Linked DNA regions of Homo sapiens: region 1 is linked to region 2. The links come from fine-mapping of genetic effects on gene expression. Tissue or cell type: monocytes. Region 2 holds a variant in brackets; the other region holds the start of a gene. All regions are shown on one strand. Distances are from middle to middle.

Region 1 (8,105 bases), 42 kb before region 2:
CAATGCCTGGAATGAGAGAACCTGGAAACTCAGAGAAACTGAGCATCCCAAGTTCACCTGAAATGGGAAGTTAACATGTGGGGCTGGAAAGAGGTGCCTGAGAAGGTAGGCAAGGGCAAATCTTGTGGGCCTTATTTGCCAGTGCTAAGCAGCTTGGGTTTGTTTAACAGGCAAAGGGGACTCACTAAGAGATTTTCAGCCAAGGGGAGAGATCGGGGAGAATCGTGTGGAGTGTAAGATTTAAAATTTAGGGAGACCAGCCTGGAAGCAGGGAGAGAATGGATTGCAGAGGTAACTGAATTAGCAAAACTGGGAAGTGGCTGCTACAGGAATCCAGGTAACAGTAATCTCAAAATCAATGAGAGCATGAATTAAGACGATGCAGAGGGATGTGAGATGAGGGGGAAAATTAAAAAAATATATTTAGGAGACAGAATCACTAGTATTTGATGAATGATAGATGTGAGGTGTCAGTGAGGTAAGGGAATCAAAGACTCTTCCAGGTTTCTAGCTTGCACTGTTAATTGGGACAGTGTATCAGAATTGTTCCTCAAGACTGAATGTGACAGACTCTGTACATGCTGTAACAACAGTATCTGATGATGTAAATATTGGAAATAAAAATTATCATGACTGACAGAGTCATCATGTAACATTCTACTCTGATATAATCTATTCTATGATCTTAAAAAAGAAACATTCACACTACCACTGAGCACAACACTGTGAAGTCGATATGCTGACCCCAAAGATTCATTATAGCCGGAGACAACACTTCCTGTGCACCTGCTAAGAGAGTCTGAGATTCTCTCAACCCAAAGAACATCAACGGCCCTCCCAGGCAGCATCAGTCCCCTGCAATCAATAAGACAGGATCTAACCAGACTGGAGGACCCCCTCCCCAAGATTTTCATAAGCTCCAGGGGAAGCTGGTTATATAACAGGGTGAAGATTAGAGCTTTAGAGAGGTCTTGACTGAGTTTCTGCCTTTCCTACTCTTATCCAGAACCATTACACCCTGAAGATATATCTGGAGTCCAGGATTTCACTGAGAACTGGATAGCTGGGCATGCCAATTGTATCTTCAATGGCTCTCTGCTTGCTCTCAGCACGGAATCCAAACTCCTTAGCACAGATACAATGATCTTCAAGCTCAGGTGGAGAATCTACCAAAATCACAATGGTTCCCTTTTGCTGCAACTGGCCCTCCCACCCACAGGGCCATGGCAGCCATGTTTACAAGGCATGGTCTGGACACCTCTTAACAGTTTAGTAAACCAAATACGGACCCAAGATGACCCTCTTTAGGATCTAGGAATCTAAATGTCTGTCTCTTTAACCAGGAATGTCTGTCTCTTTAACCATCTCCTTTCTCTCAAATGCTGGATATAATGGGGCTTTAGTAAATGACAGCTGGTAGATATGCAAATGATTTCTCCAATAGGAAAAACATTCCTCCCGAGGTTATGGTTTTATTGCTCTATGGGATATTAACCAGTTTTGTTTCTAACTTTGCAATCTATTCCAGCATTCTTTTTTTAACATTGACTATATTAAACTAGTCTTTTAACTTCTTCTTTAGCACCCTGTTGGTTCCCTAATTAATGAGCTAAGTAAATCTTTGACACATGCTCTTTCTATATTTTTAAAATTATAGTTTGAAAAAGATAAGCTAATTTCCCACACCCCACTCTTTTCTGTGGTAGGTATAAGCCTGAGAGTAGTTTGCTTGCATTGCAAAAGGTTTCACTATCAAAATATGCTTACCAGTATGAGATTTAAAAAATATTTCCATGACAGCTGTTTCATCTTCTGGAAATGAATGAGTCTTGTATTATCTGCAATATCTGATTACTGCATTTCCATTACCTCTGAGGTTATCTAACAGCCTTGGAGAGAGTCAAGGTCTCTGAGAGAGGCAGCTCAGCCTACCAACTACCACTTTGTAATATATGGAGAGGCCAGGTGTGGTGGCTCACACCTGTAATCCCAACACTGGGAGGCCGAAGCGGGTGGATCACCTGAAATCAGGAGTTTGAGACCAGTCTGACCAACAAGGTGAAACCCCATCTCTACTAAATACAAAAAATTAGCCGGGCCTGGTGGCGCATGCTTGTAATCCCAGCTACTCGGGAGCCCGAGACAGGAGAATCACTTGAACCCAGGAGGTGGAGGTTGCAGTGAGCCGAGATTGTGCCAGTGCACTCCAGCCTACGCAACAAGACGGAAACTCCATCTCAAAAAAAAAAAAATCTCTTTGGGATAAGCCCAAATTGTTCTATTTGACTTTTGGTGTTGCCCCATCTACACTATTACCCAGATCTACCTGATGAAACTTAATGATAAAGTTACTTGAGACTTGGACTCTGCCCACCTGCAAGCCTCCTGTCTTTGGGGAATTCACCTGATTAATCTTTCTGGGTCTCAGTTTCCACATCAGCTCAACAGGGCAATATGCTCAACAGGGCAATTTCCACATCAGCTCAACAGGGCAATATCATTTTCCTTACAGGGTTGTCCAAAGACTTACAATTAGCCTGGCTCACTATAGGTAGTCCACAGGTGTCAGCTACATAAATCTAAAACTCCTAGGCATGCTTGGATGGGACAACTTGGGCACAGAATTTAGAGGGGTGGTTTTGTTTCGTTTTGTTCTGTTTTGTTTTTTGGTTCTCTGGGAACTGGACAAGGTGACACAGCCAAGGCCCTTCCAACTCTTAAGAATTCTTCCCCAAAGAAAATACTTTGCAAATGCCTCAGCAGAACTCAAAAATATCCACAAACTCTTCACTGACACTAAAAACTTGGGTACTCCAAAAATCACTTCTGACCCCCAGGCGTCCTACCAGGTCTGCAAACCTTCGATTTGGGGATGCATGACCTAGCAGCTTTTAAGCATACGCCCTCAATTGTTACCCCACCTCCCGGCTCAGGGCTGGCCCTCGGGATGCAGCGACCCCTCCTCGCCAGGCTCCGCGGGACTCCGGGCAGGGCGCTCAGTGCTCCGGCAGCCACAGGGTTCGCAGAGCTGAGGTCCGCCCGAGAGAGCAGCCGCGCCTCCAGCTCGCAGTTACTCGGAGCCAGGCCGGGGAGCATCTGTGCCCCGCCCCACGCGCCGCGCAAGTCCTCCCGGGATCACCCTCCCCGCGCCGCGAACCCCCCGCACTTCCTCCACTCCCGGGTGATACCCGGCCTCGCTCCGGCCCCGCCCCCGCATCTGAGCCCCGACTCCTAACCGCCTAGAGCTCCCGCCCCGCCCACGCACCGACCCCCCCGGCCCCACCCCCGAGCCCCCGCAGCCCCAGAGGAGGCCACGGGCTAGCGATGGCGAATGCGGCGTGGCTACGCTCTCAGCCTGGCCCCGCCCCAACCCTGGCCCCGCCCATGCCCCAGGCTCCTGCCTGGGCTCTGCTCTCGGCCCCGCCCCGCACCCAAGCCCCGGCCCCACCCCCGAGCCCCCGCAGCCCGGGAGCCTAGGCCCCGCCCCCGAGTCCCGGCTCCACCCCCGAGACCCGGCCCCACCCCCGAGCCCCCGCAGACCGAGCTAGGCCCCGCCCCCGAGACCCGGCCCCACCCCCGAGCCCCCGCAGCCCTAGAGCCGCCCAAGGGATGGCGATGGCGTACTTGGCTTGGAGACTGGCGCGGCGTTCGTGTCCGAGGTAAGCTTGGAGTCCCGGCCGTTCGGCCCATGGTCGCCCGCAGGATACCGCTGTCCAGGCGAAGGTCGCCGCCGTTGGAAGACCCTCCTTCCCTATTGTCTAGGTGGCAACAGGATTTTGCTTTGCTGGTTTTCCGGTGAGGTAGTGCTAAAAAGTGACGACCTCACGCGCGCCCTCCTGCACCGCTGGGCCCGGAGTGGTCAGGATGGGCGCGTCGGGAGGTCAGGGCTATGGTTCCCTGTCAGCAGTCCCCAAGGTCTCCGCCTGCCTCCGCGCACGCTCCCATCCTCCTGGGGCCGGACTCCGGGCGGGTGAGCCGCCCCAGCTGAGCACCCGGGCCTGCACTTCCCAGCCGGGCTGCTTCTGGGGTGCAAAGCGTCGCTTGCTAAAAGCGAGGTAAACGCAAGCCGTTATCACTCGTGTGGACTTAACACTCTGCTTCTTGGAGAACACGTATGCTATAAAGTGAAATGGCCGGGTACAGAGTAACGGCTAAGAAGCACGCTGCACCTCCCTGGGGTCCCGGGAACCCGCACGAATCTGTGCATAGGGAACAAAACCGAAACACGGTGGTGGCCTTGAAGTGGTAGAATTATGAGTGATTTTCCCGACTTTATGTATTTTCTTAAATGGTCGTGTTTTTGCTATTTGTTTTTAAAACTCACGCTTTATTTAAAAATAAATTTGTTCCACATTTTGTGGAAACTTGTACATTTCGGCTTTCTGTGGATATTTTAAATTTTTCTTTCGTTTTCTACGTGGAATTTGCCATATAAGATGCAGTTTTTCCCTTTACAGAAAATCATTTTAATGTAAAACTTACTCTAGGCTGATCTTACTGAATCAGTTACTAATAGTCCAAAGTTTGAACCTAGAGTTCATTGCACCATTTTCGAGTTACATAATTGTGTTTGTGTGTTAGGTTTGGGCTTTGTAACCTGTATTATTTTAATCATCTTTTTTGCCATTAACTCTATTATTCAGTGTCATCGTCGTGAACTCCATTTTTAGCTTGTGGCCTGAGTCCTGTGCATTCAAGTTTGCCACCCCACCCCCGCTCACTATGTGTGCTTAAAAACGTGCTGATCACCCCCGCGGTGGTTGCTGTTTCTGCTCTGTTCCTGGCTGGCTGGTTAAACATACCCATAGAAAGGGGCACGCCTGCTGAGCCCCCTTCACTGACTCCCTTCCACTGCAGGTAGATTCCCTCCCATCTGCTGAGAAGGCTGTGGCTCTATCTGGAATGCCAGCAACTGCTCGTGTGTTCTTTTGAATATTTCTTGTATGTTCACATCCATTCTCCCCTCCTTCCACCTGTGTGTATGTTGGAACACCAGCTTCGCCAGCAAAGAGGCAAGAATTGACCTGATATAGCTTATGGCTTATCAGTGAGTGCAGAGGCTGTTTCAGGACTTTGGGACACTTCACTAAATTCTGTGCACTTTAGCCTTTTGGTTTCCTGCTGTCCACTGTCTTGCATGCACTTCACTTCTTGCCTTTGGCAAAATTTACATGGTCATTCCTGTTCTGGCTGCTTTTATCTTTAGTTGCTTACAGATACCTCCCTGGATGGTTACTTTTCCTTTTATTTAAAGTTACTACTGTTAGCTTCTGTATTGACTTATTATCTTGGAATCCTTACAGCCAATTATTTGCAGCCAGTTTGCTGAGGCAAGTATAAAGAAAATATCTATAGACAAACATGGCATTTTGTTATGTATAGGCTGGGAACAATTAGAAATCAGGCTGCAGAAATGTGAGGGTTGGGAACAAATAGAAATCAGTCTGCCTAATTGTAGTTCTCTGCAGGTCACTAGTTTCCCGGTAGTTCAGCTGCACATGAATAGAACAGCAATGAGAGCCAGTCAGAAGGACTTTGAAAATTCAATGAATCAAGTGAAACTCTTGAAAAAGGATCCAGGAAACGAAGTGAAGCTAAAACTCTACGCGCTATATAAGCAGGTAAATGCCTACGGTCGAACGTTATTTAAAGAATTTTGGGCAAATGACTTCTTAAATAAATACACTGTGTGTTTACTAAAATGTGGCCTTAACATTTTGGTTTGTCTTGCTCCCTCTTCTCTGAAGAGTGTGTGTGTGTATATATATATATGCCAGTTTTTTATATTAGACCTTGAAATACTATTAAGGCACAAAGTGCCTCAGTGTCACACGAGTAAAAGAGACTTACGAGATATAATATTCACATTTGTAGACCTTACTTAGCTCTTGATTAGAATAAATCAACTGAAAAAGGTATTTTTAAGACAATTGGGGAAGTTTTGAGTAAGGACAGAGTGTTAGAAGATACCTAGAAATCATCGTTAATGGTGTCAAGGTTATATAAGAAAATGTTGATATTTTTAAGAAAAGTGTACTAAGGATATAGGGGTGAAATAGCATGGATAGTTGAAGTTCTCTAAGCACAAAAAGAAAAGGATAGATGAGGCCAGGCATGGTGGCTCACGCCTGTAATCCCAGCACTTTGGGAGGCTGAGGCGGGCAGATCCCTTAAGGTCAGGAGTTTGAGACCAGCCTGGCCAACATGGTGAAACCTCATCTCTACTAAAAACTCAAAAATGAGCTGGACTGGTGGCGCACACCTGTAATCCCAGCTACTTGGGAAGCTGAGGCAGGAGAATCGTTTGAACCTGTGAGGTGCAGGTTGCAATGAGCCAAGATTGCGCCACTGCACTCCAGCCTGAGTGACAGAGCGAGACTCTGTCCAAAAACGAAAGAAAATAAAGAGAGAGAGAGATGAAGCAAGTAAGGCAGTTTGATAATTGTTGAACCTGGATGATGGGTATTGGGAATTCATTATAGTATTCTACTTTGGTATGTTTGGAAATTTTTATAACAAAATTTAAAAACTAAAGCTCTTAAGTTTCAATGCCAAAGACTTCCCTGGCATGTCTGCCTCTCTGGGCTCCTGTGTTATCTATTTTTCTGTCCTATGATGGGTATGAGCTTCTCTTTCATATGGGTGTGTATAGTAAAAAATTTAACCTTGCCCCAGAAGAGGTGTGGCTTTGCCCTCAGCTTCTGGGAAGTGAATCTCTAATGACTGGTAGGAGTCTTTATTTGCCTGGATTGTCTTAACGATGTGATTTAGGGTGGGGGCTTCAGGTTATACAGTCATGCACAGGTGATGGAGCCCTGTTAAAAACTCTGGACACCGAGACTGGATGAGCTGAGCATCTCTGGTTGGCAGGACTCCCTGTGTACTGTCACATCAATTCTGGTAGAGGTGCCCTATGCTGACTCCATGGGGAAAGGACAATGGAAACTCCACATTTGCTACTGCCCCAGACTCCATCCTGTGTGTGTCCTCCCTTGGATGATTCTAATCTCTATCCTTTCCCTTAATAAACTATTAATTGTGCGTTTAACAGCTTGCAGTGAGTTCTGGGTGTCTTTCTAGCAAATTGTTGCACTTGAGGGTGGTCCTGGGTGCCCTCCAGCCTTGCAATTGGTGTTAGCATTGAGGACAGTCAGGAGACAAAGGCAAGCCCTTATCCTGTGGACTGTGTTCCCTCTAACTTCTAGGTTGGCCAACTCTTGCCAGATGACACTATCTCTGTCTAAAGAAATTCATAACCTCCTTTACTGCCTTTTTCTTTTTTCTTTTTTCTTTTGTTTTTATTTTGTTTTTTTGAGACAGAGTTTTGCTCTGTCACGCAGGGTAGAGTGCAGCGGCACCATCTCAGCTCACTGCAACCTCTGCCTCCCAGGTTCAGGCAATCCTTCTGCCTCAGCCTCCCAAGCAGCTGGAATTACAGGAACCTGCCACCATGCCTGGCTAATTTTTGTATTTTTAGTAGAGATGGGGTTTTACCATATTGGTCAGGCTGGTCTCGAACTCCTGACCTCAGGTGATCCACCCACCTCAGCCTCCCAAAGTGCTGAGATTACAGGTGTGAGCCACCACACCTGGCTTGTTTTTCAAAGACTCTTTCTTCTTTCCTCTCTAACTGTATTATAAAATTTTAAAAATTTTAACTGGAATTTTAAATTGCTATTTCTGAAAAGTAGCTGAGTGGGATATTTTATTCATCTCAAAACACCCACTCCACCTAGCCTCAAAAATAAAATTTAATTCCTTTTTGCTTTTTACTTACATGTTCTTCAGTTAGGTTTCCTAAGAACCAGTAGCTCTGATAGCCCCACCCTAGCCCCTCAGCTACAGTTTTGTTACCCAGGTACCAAAAGTCCACCACTGAATTAGTGGTGTTTTTTTTTGTACCTTCAGATGGGCTTTTGGAATATGCTGTGGGTTTTCAAGTATTTGTTGACTAGTTCCTTGTAAAGATTGTTTGCTTGAATATTTTGATTGTTTGTGGAAAATGTGATTACCAATATAAAACTAATGAACCATTAGATTTTTTTAGAAAATACTTCCCCAAAACCTTTATCCTGCATTATTTTCATAGACAGGCAGTTATAATT
Region 2 (8,105 bases):
TAAGACCTCAAAGGCCAATGTGCTCCCAGTGACTGGACTCAGCCTGAGGCCAGTTCCCTGAAGGCACAAACTCAGAACTCTGAGGAGTCATTTCTTACCCCTTAATGCTGTTCACCTCAGCTGCATGAACCTCCTTAAACTGGCTTCCAACCATAGCAAAGAATCACTGCACCCAAATACCTCTGAAACAAAGGCACCCCACTGCTGCTTGGCAGTTGTACATGGCAGGAATTACCGGCTGCTAAATGTGTACCGACGTCTATCACCGTCTACACTGGGAGGCTACGGAGACAAAATCTAAATCAACATAGAATGAGAATGTCTCTAGAAAATCAAAACTCATTTCTCCAACTTCACATAATTACTGCATTTTCAGTGTTAATGTTGCATTTTAATTACAAAAGTAAAAGGTTTCCATTGGAATAATTAAAATGAAACAACTCAGCGAAGTCTACATAGCAAAAAGGGAAAGTTTTGCTTCATTTTCCCTCTTCAAGCTCTATCCTTTCTCCAGATGTAGCCACCGTCCTGAATTTCCTAAGTCTCCTTCAAAACTCTTTTCTATGCATTTATATACACATATATATGTACAAATGTATAGTTTTCTTTTGGCATACATGGATCCATATTGTGTATCTTCCTTTGCAGCTTATTAAAACTCTATAATCTGTATTGTAGACATGTTAATGTCAACTTTCTTTTTAATAGTATTCCACTATGTGGATATATGCCTTCGTTTAATTCTTCTGCTACTGAATGTCATAGGTTGTTTAAATTTTTGACTATTATAAACAATGCTTCAGTGCACGGCCATATTTATCCATCTTTGGGCTCAGGTACAAGTTGTTTCTGTAGGATAATAACTAGAAGTGGAATTGCTAAGTTGAAGGACATATACATGTAACAGGATGTGAAAATATACATTTTTCTGTTGTCTTGTTTTGTCCAAGGCCGCAAGTCTGAGAAAACTCGAGTAGGTGCCGGACACCTATGCGTGCACAGCATCCCTATCAATATGTGAAAAAACGGAGGATTCATTCAGGATTCCTTAAGGCACTTGAGGATTTCTTTAGGCACAGAGTTGGGGCAGTGCTGTGTACTATGTCATTCCCCTTCCCACCCTTGGCTTTAAGGGGACTTTAGAGAAGTACCTGAGGAATGGGACTATGTCTCCTGACACTGGTGCTCAGTCTCCTAGGGCTGTCCTAACAGTGCCACAAAGTGGGTCACTTGAAACAACAAATTTATTGTCTCACGATTCAGGAGGCTGGAAGTCAGATATCAAGATGTCAGCAAGGCCACGCTGAAACCTTGAGGGGAGAATCTTTCTTTGTCTCTTCCTAGTTTCTGGTGTTTGCCTGCAATCCTTGGTATTCCTTGCCTATGGATGCATCACTCCCATCTCTGTCTCTACTGTCACAAGGCCATCGGCTCCTGCGTGTCTCTTTCTTCTTATAAGGTCACCAGTCATACTGGATGAAGAACTCTCTCTACACATATTACGTTCACCTAAGTTTAATTAATTACATCTGCACCCTGTAAAGATCCTATTTCCAAATCTAGTCACATTCTGGGGTGCTGGGAGTTAGGACTTCAATATATCTTGTTGAGGGACAATATATGTTGTTGAGGCAAAATCACCAATATATAGCCATATATTTTGTTGAGCCTGTAACACCTTGAAACACAATGGTGAGTGGCTGGGATCACAGCTGCCTGTGGCCACAGAGAAAAGAGGGCAGTGTTGGAAGCCAACTGTGCTTTTATCAACGGGGTGAAGGTATGGGGAGCAAGGGCACAGATTTTCTTTGAGCTAAATGTAAACCCCAGCCGGACTTGGCGGTTCATGCCTGTAATCCCAGCACTTTGGGAAGCCGAGGTGGGTGGACCACTTGAGGTCAGGAGTTTGAGAGCAGCCTGGCCAAAATGGCAAAACCCTGTCTCTACTACAATACAAAAATTAGCCAGGTGTGGTGGCGCGTGCCTGTAATCCCAGCTACTCGGGAGGCTGACGCAGGAGAATCACTTGAACCCGGGAGGTGGAGGTTGCAGTGAGCCGAGATCGCACCACTGCACTCCAGCCTGGGCGACAGATTGAGACTCTGTCTCAAAAATAAATAAATAAATAAATAAGTAAATAAATATGTAAATCCCTTGGAAAATACAACTGACCCTTGAATAACATGGAGGTTAGGGGCACTGACCCCTGCTCAGTTGAAAATAAACACATAAGTTTCTTTTGTTAAAGAGTCTTGGCCAGGCTCGGTGGCTCATGCCTGTAATCCCAGCACTTTGGGAGGCCAAGGCAGGTGGATCACAAGGTCAAGAGATCGAGACCATTCTGGCCAACATTGTGAAACCCTGTCTCTACTAAAAATACAAAAAGCTGAGCGTGTTGGTGCATGCCTATAATCCCAGCTATTTGGGAGGCTGAGACAGGAGAATCGCTTGAACGCGGGAGTGGAGGTTGCAGTGAGCGGAGATCACGCCATTGCACTCCAGCCTGGGCAACAAGTGCAAAACTCTGTCGCAAAAAAAAAAAAAAAAAAAAAAAAGTCTTGCTATGTTGCCCAGGCTGGTCTCGAACTCCTGGGCTCAAGCAATCCTCCTGCCACAGTCTTCCAAGTAGTTGAGCATGGTAGTCTAGCACCTGTACCATGCCACTACACCCAGCTACTTTTTTGACTTTTGATTCACTCAAAACTTTTACTAATAGCCTACTGTTGGCCAGAAGCCTTACTGCTAACATAAATGGTTAACACATATTGTATATGTTATGTGTATTATATATCACATCCTTAGAGTAAAGTAAGCAAAAAAATGTTATTAAGAAAATCATGGCCGGGCACGATGGCTCATGCCTGTAATCCCAGCACTTTGGGAGGCCAAGGCAGGTGGATTGCTTGAGGTCAGGAGTTCAAGAATAACTGACCAACATGGTGAAACCCCATCTCTGCTAAAACTACAAAAATTAGCCGGGTGTGGTAGCGGGTGCCTGTAATCCCAACTACTCGGGAGGCTGAGATGGAGAATCACTTGCAACTGGGAGGTGCAGGTTGCAGTGAGCGGAGATAGCACCACTGCACTCCAGCCTGGAAGACAGAGTGAGACTCTGTCTCAAAAAAATAAAAAGAAAATCATAAGAAAGAGAAATACATTGACAGCACTGTATTTATCAACACTATAAGTTTACACCATCTGTTTACAAGAAAAATCGTCTGTCTGAAGTGGCAGGCAACTATTCAATGTACAGTACATATCAAGCAACTCAACTTTTTCTTGTAACATCATGACTTTTCTCTGCTTCTTGGGAGTACTTCTAGCATCACTAATGGCACTTTTTGTGGGTCCCATAGTGTTATTCAAGTTTTATGGTATTGCACTAAACACAAAAAATACATGAGAACTGTGAAATCACTTTACTGTGAAATGCAATTTACTAGAGACATGAGCTGCTCCCACAGAGATGATTAGCATCACATGGCATTTTAAGTGGATATTCACACCACTTGAGCTCACAGCAAGAGCAACGGGAGGTGGCTATGAAATTACTACAGCACTACAGTATTACTACAGTTAATTTTCTACAGTTATGATTTAATACTGCATAATTTTTTTTTTTTT[TTTG/G]AGGTGGAGTTTTGCTTTTGTTGCCCAAGCTGGAGTGCAATGGCATGATCTCAGTTCACTGCAGTCTCTGACTCCCGTGTTCAAAAGATTCTCCTGCCTCAGCCTACTGAGTAGCTGGGATTACAGATGCCGGCCACCACGTCTGGCTACTTTTTGTATTTTTAGTACAGACGGGGTTTCAACATGTTGGCCAGGCTGGTCTTGAACTCCTGACCTCAGGTGATCTACCTCCTCGTACTCCCAAAGTGCTGGGATTACAGGTGTGAGCCACCACTCTCGGCCTAATACTGCATCTTTATTCTCATTTACATTTCCCTTGACTGTGAATGGCACCAAGTACAGTCTGTAAGTGTTTCTGTGTGTAAGTTTTTATAAATTTTAACTTTTCCTAATAGGTTTGTGTACATTTTATGGTACTAAATGATAAAGTAGACTAGTATCTACATATATTCTATGCATTCACAACATCTCTTTTAATTTTTCTTGAGTCCCACTTTGTCGCCCAGGCTGGAGTGCAGTGGCACAATCTCAGCTCGCTGCAACCTCCAACTCCCAGGTTCAAGCAATTCTCCTGCCTCAGTCTCCCAAGTAGCTGGGATTACAGGCATGTACCACCACACCGCCTAATTTTGTATTTTCAGTAAAGACAGGGTTTCACCATGTTGGTCAGACTGGTCTCGAATGCCTTACCTCAAATCATCCGCCCGCCTCAGCCTCCCAAAGTGCTGGAATTACAGGCATGAGCCACCACGCCCACTACCCTTTTTCTTAATTTTTTGTTATTTCTGGACTATATGATTGGTCTACAAATTTTTTCAAATTGTGGCACATCTTCAAAAAAATTTCCAATATATTTACTGAAAAAAATCCACCTATTGTTGCCGGATCAAGAGGACCAGAGAGAGACCTTGGGGTGTATACAGGATATCTTTATTATTGAGTGCACTTAGACCCAACAGAGTTAACGTCCAAAGACTGGGCGCAGAACAAAGACAGTACTTGCCTTTTATACATACTTCATAAAAGGGGGTAGGCTAGCTTGAAGCAAGCGTATACTGGCGTGAAAGCAGGGATACAGAGGCAGGATAAAGACAGTTAATTAAGTTGTAACAGGTTCATAACTCAGGATTACACATGACCATCGCTAAGCAACCCAGATGTCTGTTATCTAGACTTTGCCCAGGTACGGGCTTATCCTATAACCTTCATTACGGCGCCCAGGTGGCCATAACTCAGGCCTGTTCAGAGGCTCATGACCTTCACTCTACTGCTTAGATAAAACAGAATACTTTTAAGTTACCAGTTACAGAGAACAGAAATCTATAAACTGAATAAAAGGAAAATTGGTTTTTCTTCTCGCTATGTTGAGGGAGTGCTGGAAGAGTTTCCAGAGCACAGTAGATAGTATTATTAAGACTTTTTCTGTGTCTGGGCTGTGCCTGTCGCTGCCTCTGGGACAAGTCAGCCTAATCCAGGAAAGCTTATTTCTTTAATTGGTTTTATTTTTCTTTAATTTTCTGCCACACTACAAGTGGACCTGCACAGTTCAAGTAAGTTGTTCAAGGGTCAGCTGTAGTCATTTGGAGTCTGCTTGAATATAGGAGGATCTCAGGAGCATTTCCGTCAAAAGATTATGCAATTTCTATTGAAACTGGATGGAAGTGAACCTTACAAAAGCTGGGTAGGGTGGTGCTATGGTCTGAATGTTTATGTCTCTCAAAATTCATGTTAAATCCTAGCCCCCAAGGTGATGGCATTACGTGGTGGGGGTGTGTCTTTAAGAAGTGATCAGGTCACGGGAGCAGTGCCTTATAAACTAGGCGTGAGAGAGATGCCCCCCACCCCCCCTTCCTGTGTTCAAAATTGGTGGGTTCTTGGTCTCACTGACTTCAAGAATGAAGCTGCAGACTCTCACAGTCAGTGTTACAGTTCTTAAAGGCAGCGCGTCCAGAGTTTGTGCCTTCTGATGTTCGGATGTGTTCGTACTTTCTTCCTTCTGGGGGGTTCACGGTCTCGCGGACTCAGGAGTGAAACTGTAGATCTTCACGGTGAGTGTTCTAAGCTCTTAAGGTGGCATATCCAGAGTTGTTTGTTCCTCTGGTGGGTTTCTGGCCTCAGTGGCTTCAAGAATGCAGCAGCAGACCCTCGCGGCCAGTGTTACAGCTCATAAAGGGACTGCAAACCCAAAGAGCAAGCAGCAGCAAGATTTACTGCAAAGAGTGAAAGAACAAAGCTTCCATAGCGTGCAAAAGGACCCCAGCAAGTTGCCATAGCTGGCTCGGGCCGCCTGCTTTTATTCTCTTATCTGGCCCCACCCACATCCTGCTAATTGGTCCATTTTACAGAGAGCCAATTGGTCTGTTGTACAGAGAACTGATTGGTCCGTTTTGACAAGGTGCTGATTGGTGCATTTACAATCCCTGAGCGAGACACAAAAGTTCTCTACCTCCCCACTAGATTAACTAGATACAGAGTGTCAACTGGTGTATTTACAAACCCTGAGCTAGACACAGAGTGCTGATTGGTGCATTTACAAACCTTGAGCTAGATACAGAGTGCCAATTGATGCATTCACAATCCCTTAGCTAGACATAAAGGTTCTCCAAGTCCCCACCAGATTAACTAGACACAGAGTGCCGATTGGTGCATTCACAAACCCTGAGCTAGACACAGGGTGCTGATTGGTGTGTTTACAAACCTTGAGCTAGATACAGAGTGCTGATTGGTGTATTTACAATCACTTAGCTAGACATATTCTCCAAGTCCCCACCAGACTCAGAAGCCCAGCTGGCTTCACCCAGTGGATCCCATACCGGGGCCGCAGGTGGCGCTGCCTGCCAGTCCCAAGCCATGTGCCCACACTCCTCAGCCCTTGGGTGATCGATGGGACTGGGTGCCGTGGAGCAGGGGGCAGCAATGGTTGGAGAGTCTCCGGCTGCACAGGAGCCCACGGGGAGGCTCAGGCACGGCGGGCTGCAGGTCCCGAGCCCTGCCCTGCAGGGAGGCAGCTAAGGCCCCGGGAGAAATCGAGCACAGCAGCTGCTGGCCCAGGTGCTAAGCTCCTCACTGCCCGGGGCGGCGGGGCCGGCCTGCAGCTCCCAGTGCAGGGCCTGCCGAGCCCACGCCCACCCGGAACTGGCGCTGGCCCACAAGCGCCGCGGGCAGCCCGGGTTCCCACCCGCGCCTCTCCCTCCACACCTTCCCGCAAGCTGAGGGAAGCAGCTCCAGCCTTGGCCAGCCCAGAAAGGGGCTCCCACAGTGCAGCGGCAGGCTGAAGGGCTCGTCAAGCGTGGCCAGAGTGGGCGCCAAGGCCGAGGAAGCGCCCAGAGCGAGAGAGGGCTGCAAGGGCTACCAGCATGCTGTCACCTCTCACTTCCACTATGTGAGGACACAGCAAGAAGGTGCCATCTATGAACCAGAAAGTTTTCTCCAGACATGGTATCTACCTTGATTTTAAACTTCCCAGCCTCCAGAACTATGAGAAATAAATTTTTCTGTTTATAAGCTACCCAGTCTATAGTATTTGTTGTTTTTGTTTTTTTGAGATGGAGTCTCACTCTTGTCGCCCAGGCTGGAGTGTAATGGCACAATCTTGGCTCACTGCAACCTCCACTTCCGAGGTTCAAGCGATTCTCCTGCCTCAGCCTCCCAAGTAGCTGGGATTACAGGCACCCATCACCACGCCCGGCTGATTTTTGTATTTTTAGTAGAGATGGGGTGTCACCATGTTGGCCAGGCTGGTCTCGAACTCCTGACCTCAGATCCACCCGCTTCAGCCTCCCAAAGTGCTGGGATTACAGGCGCGAGCCACTGTGCCCGGCCTCAGTCTATGGTATTTTGTTATAGCAGCCCAAACAGACTAAGGCACCTGAAGAGAAGAAATCTCAGCAGGAGGCTGTGAAAACTGTCAGCCTGGGAAATAGCCAAAGAACCCACACAAACACCCCCAGGAGACAGTCTGCCCTTTTTTTTTTTTTTTTTTTTGGAGACAGAGTCTCACTCTGTTGCCAGGCTGGAGTACAGTGGTGCGATCTCGGCTCAGTGCAACCTCCACCTCCTGGGTTCAAAGGATTCTCCCGCCTCAACCTCCTGAATAGCTGAAATTACAGGCACCCGCCATCATGCCCAGCTACTTTTTGTAAACATGGGGTTTCACCATGTTGGTCAGGCTGGTCTTGAACTCCTGACTTCAGGTGATCCACCCGTCTTGGCCTCCCAAAGTGCTGGGATTACAGGCGTGAGCCCACCGCGCCTGGCTTCGGAATTGCATCTTAATCTCTGTGGCGGCTGCTATTTTGTTTTCTAAGTTCATGAGCACAGGTGGCTGCCTCTATCTTTCTCCTCCACTTAAGCAGGAACAATTCAGGAGGCAGACTCCACCCAATGCTGCAAATCGGCCCTATTATCATTGACCCTGACAGAATTTCAGGAGTGTCAGGCCACTCCATACTGCAAACAGTACAGGTTGCTTATAATCG

Evidence for each region. PIP is the estimated chance that this variant, and not a neighbour inherited with it, causes the effect.
Region 1: it holds the start of ECI2, and the variant in region 2 is fine-mapped to the expression of ECI2 in monocytes (BLUEPRINT, PIP 0.95).

Annotation. Positions count from the first base shown.
Region 1 is chr6:4,131,065-4,139,169 of GRCh38, reverse strand. ECI2 (enoyl-CoA delta isomerase 2) reads left to right here and starts at 3,595. Exons shown (of 10, transcript NM_206836.3): 1 at 3,595-3,659; 2 at 5,459-5,621. The coding sequence starts at 3,610. ECI2-DT (ECI2 divergent transcript) reads right to left here and starts at 3,098. Exons shown (of 4, transcript NR_103764.1): 1 at 2,922-3,098; 2 at 1,768-1,809. RefSeq lists silencers at 3,040-3,249, 3,410-3,549.
Region 2 is chr6:4,088,855-4,096,959 of GRCh38, reverse strand. It overlaps the pseudogene TEX56P. Among named protein-coding and RNA genes, the nearest start is that of FAM217A, 14 kb to the right of the region's middle. The variant TTTG/G (reference allele first, on the strand shown) is at 3,625.